Homo sapiens: one gene and its partners. Changing the gene in region 1 together with any one later gene gives a genetic interaction. Each region holds a gene or a part of one and is shown on either strand. Other genes may lie near its edges.

Region 1 (2,976 bases):
CCAGGTGGCGGGGACAGGGTGAGCGCACAGTCTGGGTCCCCGCTGTAAGGACCAGGTGGCGGGGACAGGGTGAGCGCACAGTCCGGGTCCCCGCTGTAAGGACCAGGTGGCGGGGACAGGGTGAGCGTACAGCCCAGGTTTCCGCTGTAAGGACCAGGTGGCGGGGACAGGGTGAGCACACAGTCCGGGTCCCCGCTGTAAGGACCAGGTGGCGGGGACAGGGTGAGCGCATAGCCCAGGTCCCCGCTGTAAGGACCAGGTGGTGGGGATGGTGGGGACAGGGTGAGCACACAGTCCGGGTCCCCGCTGTAAGGACCCGGTGGCGGGGACAGGGTGAGCACACAGTCCAGGTCCCCGCTGTAAGGACCCGGTGGCGGGGACAGGGTAAGCGCACAGCCCACGTCCCCGCTGTAAGGACCAGGTGGCGGGGACAGGGTGAGCGCATAGCCCAGGTCCCCGCTGTAAGGACCAGGTGGTGGGGATGGTGGGGACAGGGTGAGCATGCAGCCCAGGTCCCTGTTGTAAGGGAAGGTCGCGCAGCTGGGCTGGAATTCTGGGCTCAGCCCCTCCCTTACTCACAGGCCCCCCTTCCTGGATGGTGGAGGTGCCCAGGCACCACCCTTGTTGTCTGCTCATGGCCTTGGGGTGGGTCCTACCGAGCTAGGGAAGCCTGGGGGCCGTAGGGAGCCCAGAGTCAGCCTGGAGGAGGTGGCGCTTTGGTGAGTTTGGAAGGCAAGCAGGGGTGAGCTGCAGGGGGCCAGGAAAGGGTGACTGTGACTCTGGGAGCAGCCGTGCCAAGGCCCTGGGACAGGAGGGGCTTGGCCAGCCTCAAGGCCTTACTCCAGCCCACTGCACTCTCAGATTCCAGCTCCCTGGGGCAGGTGAGATGGCCGAGCCAGGTCCTTGGATGATCTCTGTTCCTGTTCCCCTCTTCCCAGGAAGCGCCGCGGAGCCATCAACAGCAAGCAGCTCACCTACCTGGAGAAATACCGGCCCAAACAGAGGCTGCGGTTCAAAGACCCACACACGCACAAGACCCGGTGCTGCGTTATGTAGCTCAGGACCTTGGCTGGGCCTGGTCGTCATGTAGGTCAGGACCTTGGCTGGACCTGGAGGCCCTGCCCAGCCCTGCTCTGCCCAGCCCAGCAGGGGCTCCAGGCCTTGGCTGGCCCCACATCGCCTTTTCCTCCCCGACACCTCCGTGCACTTGTGTCCGAGGAGCGAGGAGCCCCTCGGGCCCTGGGTGGCCTCTGGGCCCTTTCTCCTGTCTCCGCCACTCCCTCTGGCGGCGCTGGCCGTGGCTCTGTCTCTCTGAGGTGGGTCGGGCGCCCTCTGCCCGCCCCCTCCCACACCAGCCAGGCTGGTCTCCTCTAGCCTGTTTGTTGTGGGGTGGGGGTATATTTTGTAACCACTGGGCCCCCAGCCCCTCTTTTGCGACCCCTTGTCCTGACCTGTTCTCGGCACCTTAAATTATTAGACCCCGGGGCAGTCAGGTGCTCCGGACACCCGAAGGCAATAAAACAGGAGCCGTGGCCGTGTGTGTGGAGTGGGCTACAGCGTCAGGCGGGGCGGGCTGGTGGCCTGGGGGCCCCAGAGGCTGCTGTCTGGATCCTGGGCTGGTGCCCAGGATGGGGCTCCCGCGTGCTCTTGCGCTGCCCTCTGGTGGCCGCTCTGGGTCCTTGCACCCCGACCCAGGGGCCAGCCTGCCCTGTCCTGTCCTGATACCGAGGTGGGAGCCCTGCCTTGGCCAGGGTGGCCGTGTTGACGGTTCTTGGGACTGTGACATTGGAAGGCGAGGCAGGTCACCAGCACTGTCCTCTGCAGGATGGGCTGGGATTCATTTGGCAGCTTCTCAGGGCCTGTGTCCGGCTGGTTGGTCCCTGTGCTGCCCAAACCAGGTGTCCACATTTCCGGCTCCGAGGCGCAGAGAAGGGGGCAGGTGGTGGCTTGGGTGGAGGAAGTCACCATCCATCAGCCCAGGGAGGGAGGGTGCCACCTGGGCACCTGGGGCTGGATGTGAGAGGCCTGGACCAGGGCCCGCCGGAGGGCGTGGACCAGATGCTCATGTGTTCCTGGGTGCAGTGTCTGTGTTGGGGGCTGGCCCCACCCTGGGCCGGGGTGCATGGAGGGCATGGCCCCAGCGGGGAGGAAGGTGGGCCTAGGGCTGGCTCCAGGGTGTGGAGAGCCTGGGAGTGGTCTCCGTCCTGGGGCCCCAGGAGGTTCCCGCAAGGAGCGACTGGGGCAGGTGCTGGAGGAGGTCAGTGGACAAGATGGGGAGATGTGGAAACCCCAAAAGCCCCTTCTCAGGCAGCCCTGCCCCCAAGACCGACAGATGGCTAAGGGGGCCGCAGACCTGGCTCCCCCAGCTCCTGTGTGGAGAAAGGGCAACAGCTGTCCCGGATGGTTATTCTCTCCTTTCCTCAAACACATTTGGAACTCAAGTAAATCCAATGCATGTTGGGTGAAGTTTGCTGTATTTTTTCAATCCACCAGCCAAGTTTTGGGGTCACCTCTGCTGGCCCTGTGTAGCCATGTCCCTGCCCCAAGAGGCTCACAGTCTAGCAGGGTTGGGGGGAAGACAGGCTGGTAAGCCTCCCAGTTACAGCTAGGGGTGCTCCACCTCGGGGGGTGGCGGGGACAGGGGGCATGGAGGTGGGGCCTTGGGGTGCTGCACCTTGGGGGGACTGAGGGACAGGGTGCATGGAGGCAGGGCCTCAGGGTGCTCCACCTTGCCGGGGGGACGGGGGAATGGGGGGCATGGAGGCGGGGCCTTGGCGTGCTCCACCTTGGGGGGCAGGGGAAATGGGGGCATGGAGGTGGGGCCTTGGTGTGCTCTACCTCGTGGGGCAGGAGAAATGGGGGCATGGAGGTGGGGCCTTGGTGTGCTCCACCTTGTTAGGGGGCAGGGGGACAGGGGCATGGAGGCGGGGCCTGGGGGGGGCACAGTGCAGAGTACCACGTCGGGAGGTGGGGGAG
Region 2 (5,310 bases), on another chromosome or scaffold:
GGGTAGATGATGGTTAGATGGGTAGATGGATGGATGGATAGATGGATGGGTAGGTGGATGGATGGATAGAGAGATATATGATGGTTAATGGATGAATGAGTAGATGATGACTAGATGGGTAGATGGATGGATGGATAGATGGATGGTTGGGTGGATGGATGGATGGATGGATGGGTAGCTGGTTGTGTGGTTTACACTTTAGCTCTGGAACCTACAGACCAGCCCTCCTTACCTCTACCCCTTTGTTTCTTTCTTCCAGGTTGTGGGCATTTTTGCAGGATTTGGGCTGCTGCTCTTGGTGGCCTCACCTTTCCTACTCCTGGCCACTCCCTTTGTACTTTGCTGCAAGTGCAAGTGCAGTAAAGGTGACGACGACCCGTTACCCACCTAGAGGAAGCGCGATGCTGGAACACATCCCTGCCTCCGGGAAGTGTGGCTCTCCCCCAACCCTCCCCACCGTCCCCCCTTCACTAAACATCTTTCTTGCCTTATGTGCCCCATTGAGCTTCACAGTGTCAGGCTGGACGCCGTGATTTCAGGGACCTATGTCACAATGTTCGCTGAGGCCCCAGGTGTGGTGGGGAGGGGAGGCAGGTGTGGGTAGCGCACATCCCCACAGATCAATCTCTGCAGATGACAGGGAGGTGCTGTGAGAAGTGCACCAGGCAGCTTTCTCTCTGTGGTAGACTAGGCATGTCTGGGGATGGCCTAAGAGACTTTCTGCTCCTTGGCTTCTAGATGGCACCATGTTGTCAGAGAAGTCTTTTAAGGACTGCCACTCTCTTCAGACAGAATCTGATTATTCCAGCTTGAGAGAAGCACTCTGTTTATGACAACTGTTTTTATTACTAATGGCATTTAGTAAAATCCTTTTTAGAAGGTATTTTTTTTCCAACTGAGTAGTGAAAATCAACAAGGTGCATATAAACCATCCTATGCCTTTCTTGAAATGTGCATTTTAAGAAGTTATAGTTAAACGACTTTTCAGGAGATTTAGAAAGCCTTATGCACTCTTTGTGTTTTTCTTGAAACTTGCTGTAGTAACTTTTTGAACGCTGTAAGCTGTGTACTGTTATAAGTGTGCTTCCTATATTGTTGCATTTCCTTGATAATATTGACGTGTTTAAAGGAACATCTCATCTCCATTAGATTTGCCTTTTGTTGTTTTCTCTCTTTGGTGATTCAGCTCAGCTCATGGGCCTCATCCCTTCTCTCCCAGGTAGCAGAAAACGCTTTTTATTGTATTCAATCCCACTGCTTTGCTCGGCAATGGTTCTCCTCCGAATTGCTGCCGTCTGGCCTCTGGCCTCAGTCTTCAGATAGACAGTAAGAAGAAAGCAGCCTCATTGATCCGCAGATGTAGGGGCCTCTTGGCAGAGGCTGGAGGACTCTGGGGGCTAGGGAAGAGCCTGCCAGATTTTCACATTTTTAAAATGTTCTAGTCATTTTGAGAAATCATATATCTTACACAGTTCCAAGTCCTGTTGCTAACCGTTTTGCTCTTGTTGGGGAAAAGAACCTCCCATTTCACTTCGTTTTAACGTGGGGATTTTACCACTTGATCTTTTACAGGGCTGTCTGTGACCATTTCCATGGCAGCAGGATGCAGGGATTAATAAGGACACATACACATTATTCCACCAATTGACTTTGAAAAGTGGAGAAAGTGTATTCTTTAAAGAGAATTTACTTCTAAAAGCCACAGGTGCTTTTACAAAGCAAACTGCATTGAATTTAAAACTTCTAAAAATAACAGGCAAATATTGTAGCTATATTACAGTGGGATTTTAAAAATCTTGTTAAACATTCTATAAAGAAGTAAAACAAAATCCTTTTATCTCAGTTATTTGCCCATCACAAGCACATTTTTAAAATGTTGCTTTGTGTGTGTTTGACTTCTGCATTTGAGTATCAGTCTCAGGTCCTAGTTTACTTTCCCTGGTTGGAAATTTATTTCTTATTTCCTAACATTGAATTCGTTAGAAAAAACAGCGTCACCTCACTCTTCACCTGTCATGTTGATTTTCCTTATGAACCCGAAGCCATTTAGAAAATCCCTGTGTGTCAAAATTACATTCAAAAAGCTCTCCTTGTAATTGCAAGTTTAGTAACTCAGTAAGAACATGCCTGCGACTCCCTTTCTGGATGGAACCTGGGCTGTGGCTCTCTGTCGTTTGTGGTGCTGTGATGGTGTCTACTGTTAGAATAGCTTTTCTGGAGGTGGGTGGCAACTCCACGCGGGAGTCATTGGCTGGGCTTGAGCCCTCAGCCTGTGATATGTGGATGCAGCTGTCCAGCCACTGCCCTTTAACATGCCCAGCACACATGGGAGGCCTGTGGCCCTGTGTCCAGTGGCCCACAGGACACGCCTCCACCATATGCTCATCCTTCCTGCCTGAAATTGCTGCTGCCCATCGCATGAGCCCACACAGTAGCACCCCCGTCCTTAGGATGAGAGTCAGAGCCTTTGGAAAGGCTGCATCCCCAGGGCTAGAGCTCAGATGACCTTATTTCTAGAGGGACAGGCTGTTCTGTTGGAAGAGTCTCTGGCCCAGTCATGCACATCTGTAGCCCCAGCCATCCTTGTGCCTTCACCTCTGATGTGTTTCACAAGCACGTAGTTCAACCCAGATAGGGACCACAGAGATTCTGGGGCCAGCCAGGGGCAGTCAAATTGGCACCTACTGGCTCTGACTTTTTGTATGAAGCATGCCTCAGTTTCCTCATTTTGATCTAGATATAAAATTAAAATTGTCCATTTCCTATATAAATACCAGCAAGATCACTCTGAGATACATAAACTCGCATTTCCTTCTGTTTTAGTAAGGAGTGCCAGACTTATCTTTGATGGGAATACAGTATGAACCCTGCTTGATGTAAAATGGAAATAGCACACAGGCAGATGGCCCTGGGTTTGGACTTTGATCTTGCCATCATTCCCCAGTAAAACCTGGGGAGTTCTGCGTTGAGTGGACGGACTTATTCCTGTGAAGCGGCATAATTTGTCTCCATTGAAAAATGGCATTCACTCTTACAGATGGTGTTCACTGCAAGCCCCAGAAGCATATGGCATGTGTTCACTAAGAGGCCTTTAATCCTGGGGAGTAAGGGGCGAAGGCCCTTAGACAACCATGGCTGCTGTACTGCCGCCCAGGGTGGGTGGCCAGTGAGGACTGGCCTTAGCCCAGTGGACCTGTGGCTTCTCTGAGGCCCTTGAGTAACTGACCACATTTGGAGGTTTTGCTGGAAATGCCTGACCTCTCAGTCTGGCTCTGCTGTGTAGTCCATAGCCCAGCCAGATGAGCTTGCAGCCTCATAGGAGGTCAGCACCTTGCAAAGATGCAGTCACCATAGATGTCCACGTAGCAGAGACTGACTTAGGATCTGAGATAAAGCATCGGATTGCAGGAATAACTGTCCAAATTAGTTCTTCCTCCTCAACTCATAGGAGTAGCTGTGGACAGAGGAACCAACATCTGCCACCTCTGGCATTTTCTTTCTTTTTTTTTCTTTTTGAGACGGAGTTTCGCTTTTGTCCCCCAAGCTGGAGTACAATGACAGGATCTCGGCTCACTGCAAGCTCTGCCTCCCGGGTTCAAGCGATTCTCCTGCCTCAGCCTCCCAAGTAGCTGGGATTACAGGCACCCACCACCTCACCCAGCTAATTTTTGTATTTTCAGTAGAGACGGGGTTTCACCATGTTGGCCAGGCTACTCTCAAACTCCTGACCTCAGGTGATCTGCCCACCTCGGCTTCCCAAAGTGCTGGAATTACAGGCCTGAGCCACCCCACCCGGCCTATTTTCTTAAAGGGGAACAAATGATCTTGACAACATATTATTCCATAAAACCAGTTTAGGGCACAGGCCAGTTCCTGATTAGAACACAGGACCTGTGGGAGGGACTATCAGAGATGCAAAAATTACTTCAAGATGAGTTTATTGTTTTCATTTGTATTGCAAAAGTTAGAAGTCATTTTACAAATTAAAAAAACATTTTTTTCTTGGTAGTCTTTAAAAATTAGGGGATTGAAAGGATCCAGGATGGGCTTTGTGTGTGTGTCTCAGATTCTCATTTATTAGTGAGCACACCTGTGTATATATATAAATCACAAGGAGATCATCAAGGGAAAACATTTTGCATGTGTAAAGCTTCATGAAGTTCTCTTTAAAAAATACCAAAGCTTGTTTATTTCTGATAATTAACCTAAGCCCTTATGAAAATAAACAAAATGAAGGGATTATGACAGGTATTACCAAAAACACCAAAAGGAACAAAGGGGCCTGCGTTAAAACCTAATTGCTAATGCTTCACAACTAGGAGAGCATGCCGTCTTGATGTTTAAAAAACCCAGGGTCTCCACCCTTCCTTTGATTTGTGCAATTCTGTCTTCCACAGTTCCGGAGCCTTCAGTGAGGGGTAGCTACATGCCCCATGCCTGCCCTTTCTTTCCTTCTTTGCTCACTTTACTATGGGTGTATTTTAATCTTGTATAAAAATATGCATGAATGAGTCATGCACATGTATACGTTATGTATTTGACAAGTGGTGGTGAAACAAAATCAAAACAGATTTGATTTGTGTTTTTGAAATGTCAGTACATTTTGTGCCACTAACACTGTGATGTATAAAAGAGCTGTTTGAATGCCTTTTAATGTTGTGTTTTGTACTCTGGAATCATATGGAAAAAGTTTGATTTGTAATTTCAATACATATTTTAAATGTATTGTGTCTTACGTAGTTTGTCCCCCCCTTTAGCAGGGATTCCTTTTTAAAGCTATTTTGGCTGGAATACAGGTGACTTTTGTAAACCCCGCGTGGCTCCGTCTTTTGTAGATGCTTATCTGACTACTGGCCTGAAGATGGAAAATATTCTATCTTCAGTCTTCAATATTTAATCTATTGAAGATTGAAAATATTCAATGTGGGAACTGGGGGTGGAGGGAGAAAGGGTGAGGCAGGGGAGGGATCTTATATCACTGGGAAAACAGCTCTTGTATCCTGAGATTTTCTGTTTTAGGAATGTTCTCAACTCCTAGATGCCAAAATTACTTGGTTTGTTGGGTGTATCAACCCGTCCAGCCATTCCTGGCTCCCTCTTGTGGTGCCCAACCGGTACTGCAGCATCAGGAAGCATCTCATCCCCACTCAGGGCGCTCTGCTTCCATCCGCAAAGACAAGTTCCTTACAGACCTGTCACATTTTATGAGTTGCAGCATGAAAATCAGGAGGCATCCTTTATCTGCTGGGGGTGGGGAGAAAGTGGAATAAATATGGATCCTTCTCATTTCGTAGGAGAGATAATAATGAG
Region 3 (7,042 bases), on another chromosome or scaffold:
CAGACCCACCCTGGAAAAGCTAGAACCACAGCTGGGATTACCATTGCTCTGGGACCATCTTCTGAGTCAGACTTGGGGAGCCTGTCCTCCCCACACTCCTCAGTTCCTGAAGACATCCGTTTTCTCCTCTTGCTTCTTCTCTCATGGCTGTTTACTGGGGCCAAAGGGGACATCTCCAAGGAGCTACGGGACACGGTATCCACACCCCTGATGGTGAGGGCCTGGAAAAGAGTGGAGGAACGGACGTTTCCATCATTGAGACTTTGTGCAGCCTCAGGCTCAGGCAGGCCAGGCAACTCTCAGTGACTTGGTTTTCCCTATCAGTAAGTGGACTTGCACACCTACCCCAAAATGAGGACATCATGGAGATAAACTCAGACAGACCCAGAATGTTTTGGGAAAGATCAAGATCCAGGAAGGAAGATAGGAGTGGCTAAAGTGGGCAGCCTCGGAAGACTGGAGTGTGTGGAACAGGTGGGAGGTGGGTGTAGATGAGCAGAGAAGTGGCAGAACCAGAAGGCAGAGGCTCTTCTAGAAGGTTTAGCTGGCCAAAAGTGTACTGGAATATGTGGCATGGGGTAGTGAGAAGAACAAGTGGATGCTTCTAATAGCTCTGGCTTCTAATAGCTCACTCTATAGCCAGCCTCCAGGCTCCACCATGTGGGGGACTAGGGATGGCTAGGGCAGCATTGTCAGTGCTTATTTTCTGAGACAGCTCTGTTCTCTGACATTGGACCTTCTTCACTACCCCACCAGAAGGCATCCCTTGACCAGAATAAACTATGTGCATGTATACATGCATCTCTTATCCAGCATGCACTATGCTCACAGGGACCATCTTTACCCAGGAGCTACCACCCAGCAGGCACCATTTTTACCCAGCTGGCGCCACCTTCACCTGGAGGACATGACGACCATAGGGAACAAGTTTACTCAGCACAAGCCACACTCATAGGACCCACCTTACCCAGCAGATGTCACTTTTACCTAGTAGGCTCCTCACTAACAGGCACGTCTTAACCCAGCAGGTTCCAAATTTTTACTCAGCGATACCACATTCACAGAAAATATCTTTACCCAGCAGGCACTGCACCATGCCCACAGGCACTGGCTTTACCCAGCATGCACCATGCCCACAGGCACCAGCTTTACCCAGCATGTACCACGCCCACAGGCACCAGCTTTAACTGGCATATACCCCACCTATAGGCACCTACAGTCAGGTGAGGGCTTAGAGGCTCCTCGGTGGCACTGCTCACCCACCTCGTGTTCTTTCTTGAGCATTTCCATGGCCTCCTGGAAGCGCTTTTCCTTCTCCTCGGTCTCAGCGATGGTGGCTTGGTTTTGCTCCTCATAGGCCATTGCGACCACGGCCAGGATCAGGTTCACCAGGTAGAAGGACCCCAGGAAGATGACAAGCATGAAGAAGATCATGTAGATCTTCCCTGCGGACCTGAGGGTCTGGGGGAGCAAGGGGGCAGAGGTCACCCTCACTGGGGCCCCTTCTGGGTTATGGCATTTCCAAGTCACCTAGTCTAGTTGTGCCAGGGGTTCAAATAGCCATAGCCTAGGGAGGAGGGTAGAGATGTCCCACCTATAGAGAGGGACATGTACTGACCTGCAGAGGAGAATGACCTGCACACAGCGGGACTGTGTCCCACCTGAGGAGGGAGGCAGAATGTTCCACCCAACTCAGGGCATGCTGTGCCCACAGAGGGAGAATATTCCATCCTACAGGGAGAAAGAGTGTCCCACTCACAGAGCAGAGAGCATCCTATACAAAGGGACTGGTACTTCATCACCAGCAAAAAGAAAGTTTCTTTGCTGCTGATCCCTTCTCCCTCAGAAGCAAGGGTCCTTGTCCCCTGTCCCCTCCAAAGCTCCCACCAGTGGGGAGGCTGCTGGGGCCACTTCTGGCTAGTCACTTGTGTAGCCTGGACCCTGAGCCCACACTTGCTGTCCCTTGTGGGCACACACACACCTGCTGATAGAGGCGCTCCCAGCAGTCCTGCGTCATCAGGCGGAAGAGTGCAAGAAAGGCCCAGGCAAAGGAATCGAAGCTGGTGTAGCCGTGGTCGGGGTTCTCGCCTGCCTTTAGGCACCGGTAGCCCTCCGGACATGTCCTGCAGCCACACACAGAGACTTTGTTCCATGCCGTCAGGGGTCTGCTGCCCTTGAGACCCTTGCTGGGCTGGACTTGTCTCCCTGGGCAACCCAGTTTATGCCCCACAGCTCAGTGAAGCTGAGCTTCACAAACCTAGTGCCACGCTGCTGGATCCTGCCTCCGTGACTTTGTTCGTGCTGTGCCTCCCACTGGGACACTATCTTCCTCTTTACTCTTCTTATATGTACTCTGCTAGGCCTAAATCAAGCTCCCTTCTGCCCATACGTCACACCATCCCCAGCTACTATCAAGTTGCCTCTCCTCACAGAGAGGAAGCACACAAGCCTGGCTCATGTCTCTTCCTCTGCCCATCTACCCCATGAGGAGTTGAGTACAGCATGGGCATGGGGGAGAGCAGGGTTGGGGAGAGCAGTGAGCCTCGGCTGAGCTGAACAGGATGAGCCCAGGGCAAAGGCAGGGCCATGGGGTTGAGAAATGATTCTGGAGGGGATGGGCTGGGGCTTGGCCATGTCAGGAGCTCATTTGCACAACTGTGCACACAGCCACTGGTTCACTGAGGCAGATTCACAGTTCACAGAGCTGGAGGTGGTAGCCTCTCTCCAAAGAGGAAATGCTGGTCTGGAGTCATGTGTGCATGTATGTGTGTATGACACACACACACACACACACACACACACACACACACGAGGGACTTAGCAAGTGGATGGATGCATCCAAGGGACCTCTGTGTCTTGCTAATGCCCCAAGACCCTCCAGACAATCTCTTTGGTGACAGGAAGGAGGCAACAAACTTGGTACTTCTCCTTTGAGGTGGCCCTCTGTGACCCCCTTCTCCAACACTCCATGGCACTGTCACAGTGATCCAGGCCCTGGTGTGCACAGGGCCCTGGAAGCTGCACATGGCTACTGGGCATCTCAAGGAAAGTCCAGGCTGCTGGAGAAACCACATTTGCTCCAAGGGACAGATCAGCAGCAACGGAGGGAAGACTGGAGCTGGAGGGAGCAGTTCTGGGGAGCTTCTGGAAGGGAATGGAGCTGGGGGTGGGCTGGTTGGGGGGCTGTAGAAGGCATCCCAGGCTATCCCTCAGTCCCAGCCCACCTTCAGGGCTCCGTTAGCTCTCCCTGCAGCTCTGTCCCTGACCTTTCTCCAGAAGCTGTCTCCTCTGTGCTGGGGGCAAGGTGGGGAAGCTGGGGAAGGGTCCTGGCAGGTAAGGGAGACAAAAGAAGGCCTCGCTGTCCCTGGGGTCAGGGCATAAATAGAAAATACAGTCAGTTGAGAAAACACCAGGAGACTCCCCTGGCAGGACAAGGAGACCCGGGGTGGTAGGTGCCACATACCCAGCGTCAGAGCTGTTCCCACACAGTAACACATCAGAGGTGCCGTTCTTGAGCAGGTAATTTTCTGTAAGAGAAACATCATGCTGGTGAGGGGCACTCTGGCCCAAAAGTTTCCGCCTTGCATCCAGGGCTCTGGGGAGGTGGAGACCTCACTAGCGGTCTTCCTTCTTCTCTGCCCCTTCCCTGCCCCTGCCCCTGCCCTCTGCCTGGCCAGGCTTCAGGCAACTCTGGCTGTGCCTCTGGCCTTCCTTCTGTTCCTCTGAAGACATCCTGCTGCCAGTGTCCCCATGCTCTCAGAAGACACGGGAAGCCCTGGGCAGGGCCTCAGCTCTCCCCACAGGAAGCTTCTGCACCCTACCCGAAACCACTCAGGGGGCCCACCAAGGCCAGGAGGCAAGGGTCTGGGCAGTTACGGCTTGGCTGCCGAGTCACTGTGGGGCCTTGGCCGGCTACTGCCCAGCTCTGTACTCACTTCCATCACATAAAATGCTGGAAGTGATGCCTGCAATAGTCACCATGCTAACGCTGTGGTCTGTCCGGATGGGGCTACACCAGACAGGACTGCCCGTCTTGTCCTCTCCTTTCTGTGGCAAGTCATCAGTCCCCAACACTCACCATTACCTGGCTTTGTCTTAGGCGACAGTTGTCAAAGCATGGTCCTCGAACCAGCATCATCAGCATCAAGTGGAAACTGCTTAGAAATGCAACTTCCTGACTGCCACCCAGACCTACTGACTCGGAAACTCTAGGGGTGGGGCCCAGAAGTCTGTTTTCCAGAGCCTTCTAGGTGACTTGGGTGTACATGGAAGTTTTAGAACTGCTGTTATGAGGCCACTGCTGAACTACTCATTGAGTGTCTATGTTTTGTTTTCCAAAGTGGACTGCTGGTGTATGTAAGAGGCCCTAACTTCAGAATGGCCCTCAGGGTCATTCTGGCCCAGGGTCCTGTGGCCTGGAATCTGGCCTTGCAGCAGCATGTACCTCCGAAACAGACCAATGGCTCTAGTCAAGAGTGGTGCTGGCCATCAGCCTGGAGAATGGAAGTGTGAGCCACGGGGCAGTGAAACAACAGAGGGGCTCACACAACTTGGCACAATCATTGGGCTTGTTCCAACCCTCTTGCAGGGTTCTGGGGTACACGTATATGGAACGAGCATCCTGGCAAGGAACACTGACGGCAACTGGGAAATCTCCATGCCAGCTAGGTGGGGCTTCACTCTGAAGCCTCATCAACTACGCTGGCTCCATGTCCACCCCTTTCCTAAGCTGACACTCTGTGGGCAGGCTGGTCACCTTGCCATTGCAACACTCTAGGGTCAGTCCCATCTCCAAATGCCGCAGCCAACTGGCCCTCTATCTAACTCCATACTTTCCACTCCTCAAGCATTGCCTCTCCGTCTAGCCTGGGAAGTCACAAGGCAGGCCCTAAGTCTGCTACCCGTCTGTCCTCTGTCTGGGTCTCTGGGGGATCAGGCAGGGCTTGAACAGCCCTGGAGGCCTGCCCTCTGGTGACGCGTGTGTGGGAGGTGACCCCGGTCTGCTGGTCTCACAAAGTCTTCCCCAGCTGCAGAGCAAGTTCGCACCTGGATCACTGAGGTAAAGGTCCAGGGATTCCCAGACCAAGCCGTCGGCCTCCACGGAGCCGTTGGTGCCGTTGAGCGCTGTGAAGTTGCGCACGCACTTGTGCCTTAGGTTGCCCATGAAGAGCTGCAGGCCGATGAGGGCAAAGACGCTGAGGCAGAAGACTGTGAGGACCATCACATCAGCCAGCTTCTTCACAGACTGGATCAGGGCCCCCACGATGGTCTTCAGCCCTGGGGAAGGCAAGAACAAGCACGGGGTCACCCAGGGGCACCGAGCTCTGTGCTCCACTGGTGGGGGGCTGGGCCTGAGTTGAGCTGGGGTGGGGCCAGTGTAGGCAACCAGAGGTGGGGACAGAATAAGGGAGGCTTCTCCTGGGCTTTGAGACCCAAGCCCCACTTTCCTCACAGCTGAGATTCTGTCCTGATTTCCCTGGGCAGGAGTCTAGGCTGGCTTTGTAGTTTCAGAGGGAGCCTGCTCCTCTTTGCTCTCCACCAGCCAAATATATGGCATGGGTGTGGAAAGTGCTGCTTTCTTGAGACAACACATACTCAGAGCATGACCCCCTTTGGCTAGTCTGAAGGTGTGCTAGGCCTACCCCTTTTAATGTAGTCCATGGAAAAGGAGATGGAGGCAATTGAGGGGCCTCAGCCTTGATCTTGAGATGGGGAGAAATAGAGCCATTCCTGCTGGAGGTCCTCCTGCCCCACTGCTGGGGCTGGCTCTATTTGATGTACAGGGAGTGTGGATTGTTTGGAGGAAACTAGGGGCCCAGGGTCTGGTCGGGTAGGGGCTGAGGGCTGTGGTCAGGTGTGTGCTGGGGGCTGTGGGTGACGGTCTGGCGGGGTCATGGCGGGTGATGTCTAAGGGGCCTGCGCTGGCTCAGGCCCACCTTTAGGGAAGGTTCAGGAACAGGACTGACCTGCATTGCATCTTCTCACTTGCCCTGTCCCTCTAGAACCTCCCCACACCCCCATCCATCCCATTTCCCATAGCTGAGAGGCTGTGTTCTGTTAGTTGCACAGCCTAGCTCCCTGCAGAAGCCAGCACCACATAGCAGAATGACAGAAAAGCATGTGTAGACACCAGTCTGGCCCTTAGCGACTGTCCTAGGACAAGTGCAAGCAGAGCATGGGGAATGAGGAGGCTCCTCTGCCAGCGGCAGGGCCCTGCCCCTCATGTCCCTGTCCCAAGCGGCCAGATCTCAGATTAAGCTCCATCCATCCACTGTCCAGCCGGTTAATGTGTTAGGAGCGCCTGTGGCTTCTGTGCCTGCTGCTGCTGGGCCTGTGACCCACAGGCAGGGAGGCCATGATGAGCAAACACAAGATGGGGAGAGGATGACCTCCCCATGGTGCCACTGACATTGCTGCCCACCCAGGGCTCAGAGGCACTCAGCCTTCCTTGTGGAAATCGTTCCTGGCAGATGTTGGCAACTGCCTGGGCAGTGGGTGGACCTCACAGGTCTGGGTCCAGAGTAGTGGCGGTGGTGAGATTCACAAGCTCTTCATGGTCCAGAGCTCCTCATCTGTAACAGAGCTTCCTGTACCCTTTGGTGGGTTTACTGGGCTGGAGACCTGCATGTCTCGAAGGGAACAAAGTGAAGACTGATGGACAGCAGCTCCAATACCCAAACTGGTCTCTGCCTCAATTGTTAGGCTAAAGTCTCTTTGGCCTGAAGTATCCCATTCAAGGCCAGCAAAGCACCCCCTGACCTGGTCTGTGGACATAGTGGCCAAGGGTAACTCACCCCTTTGAACATTTCTCATACTGATGATAGATTTCACTTCTGGCAAGAATGGTTGCAACGAAACTGCAGGATTCTTTCTGAAAAGACCCAGGAAGGGATTGGCCCCAGGAGATCAACTGGGAAATCCTCCTGCCACTGAATTAACAGGCTGGGTGGAAGAGCCCTTGGAAATCACCAATTCTGATTTCACTCTCATTTTATGGAAAAGCGACTGAGTCTAGAGAGGACTAGGGCTATTTCAGACTCAG

The links. Genes that interact genetically often act in the same process or in processes that back each other up.
Region 2: changes in PTP4A3 (region 1) and RNF144A together harm fitness less than expected from each alone (positive genetic interaction), as found in Homo sapiens cells (one study listed by BioGRID).
Region 3: changes in PTP4A3 (region 1) and SCN5A together harm fitness less than expected from each alone (positive genetic interaction), as found in Homo sapiens cells (one study listed by BioGRID).

Annotation. Positions count from the first base shown.
Region 1 is NC_000008.11:141,429,989-141,432,964, forward strand, and holds the end of PTP4A3 (protein tyrosine phosphatase type IVA 3), read left to right. Parts: intron 1-938; coding exon 939-1,056; 3' UTR 1,057-2,466; downstream 2,467-2,976. UniProt on the Homo sapiens protein: Protein tyrosine phosphatase which stimulates progression from G1 into S phase during mitosis. Enhances cell proliferation, cell motility and invasive activity, and promotes cancer metastasis.
Region 2 is NC_000002.12:7,039,370-7,044,679, forward strand, and holds the end of RNF144A (E3 ubiquitin-protein ligase RNF144A), read left to right. Parts: intron 1-259; coding exon 260-391; 3' UTR 392-4,810; downstream 4,811-5,310. UniProt on the Homo sapiens protein: E3 ubiquitin-protein ligase which accepts ubiquitin from E2 ubiquitin-conjugating enzymes UBE2L3 and UBE2L6 in the form of a thioester and then directly transfers the ubiquitin to targeted substrates.
Region 3 is NC_000003.12:38,604,688-38,611,729, forward strand, and holds part of SCN5A (sodium channel protein type 5 subunit alpha), read right to left. Parts: intron 5,278-7,042; coding exon 5,047-5,277; intron 3,528-5,046; coding exon 3,464-3,527; intron 2,124-3,463; coding exon 1,982-2,123; intron 1,462-1,981; coding exon 1,264-1,461; intron 222-1,263; coding exon 42-221; intron 1-41. UniProt on the Homo sapiens protein: Pore-forming subunit of Nav1.5, a voltage-gated sodium (Nav) channel that directly mediates the depolarizing phase of action potentials in excitable membranes.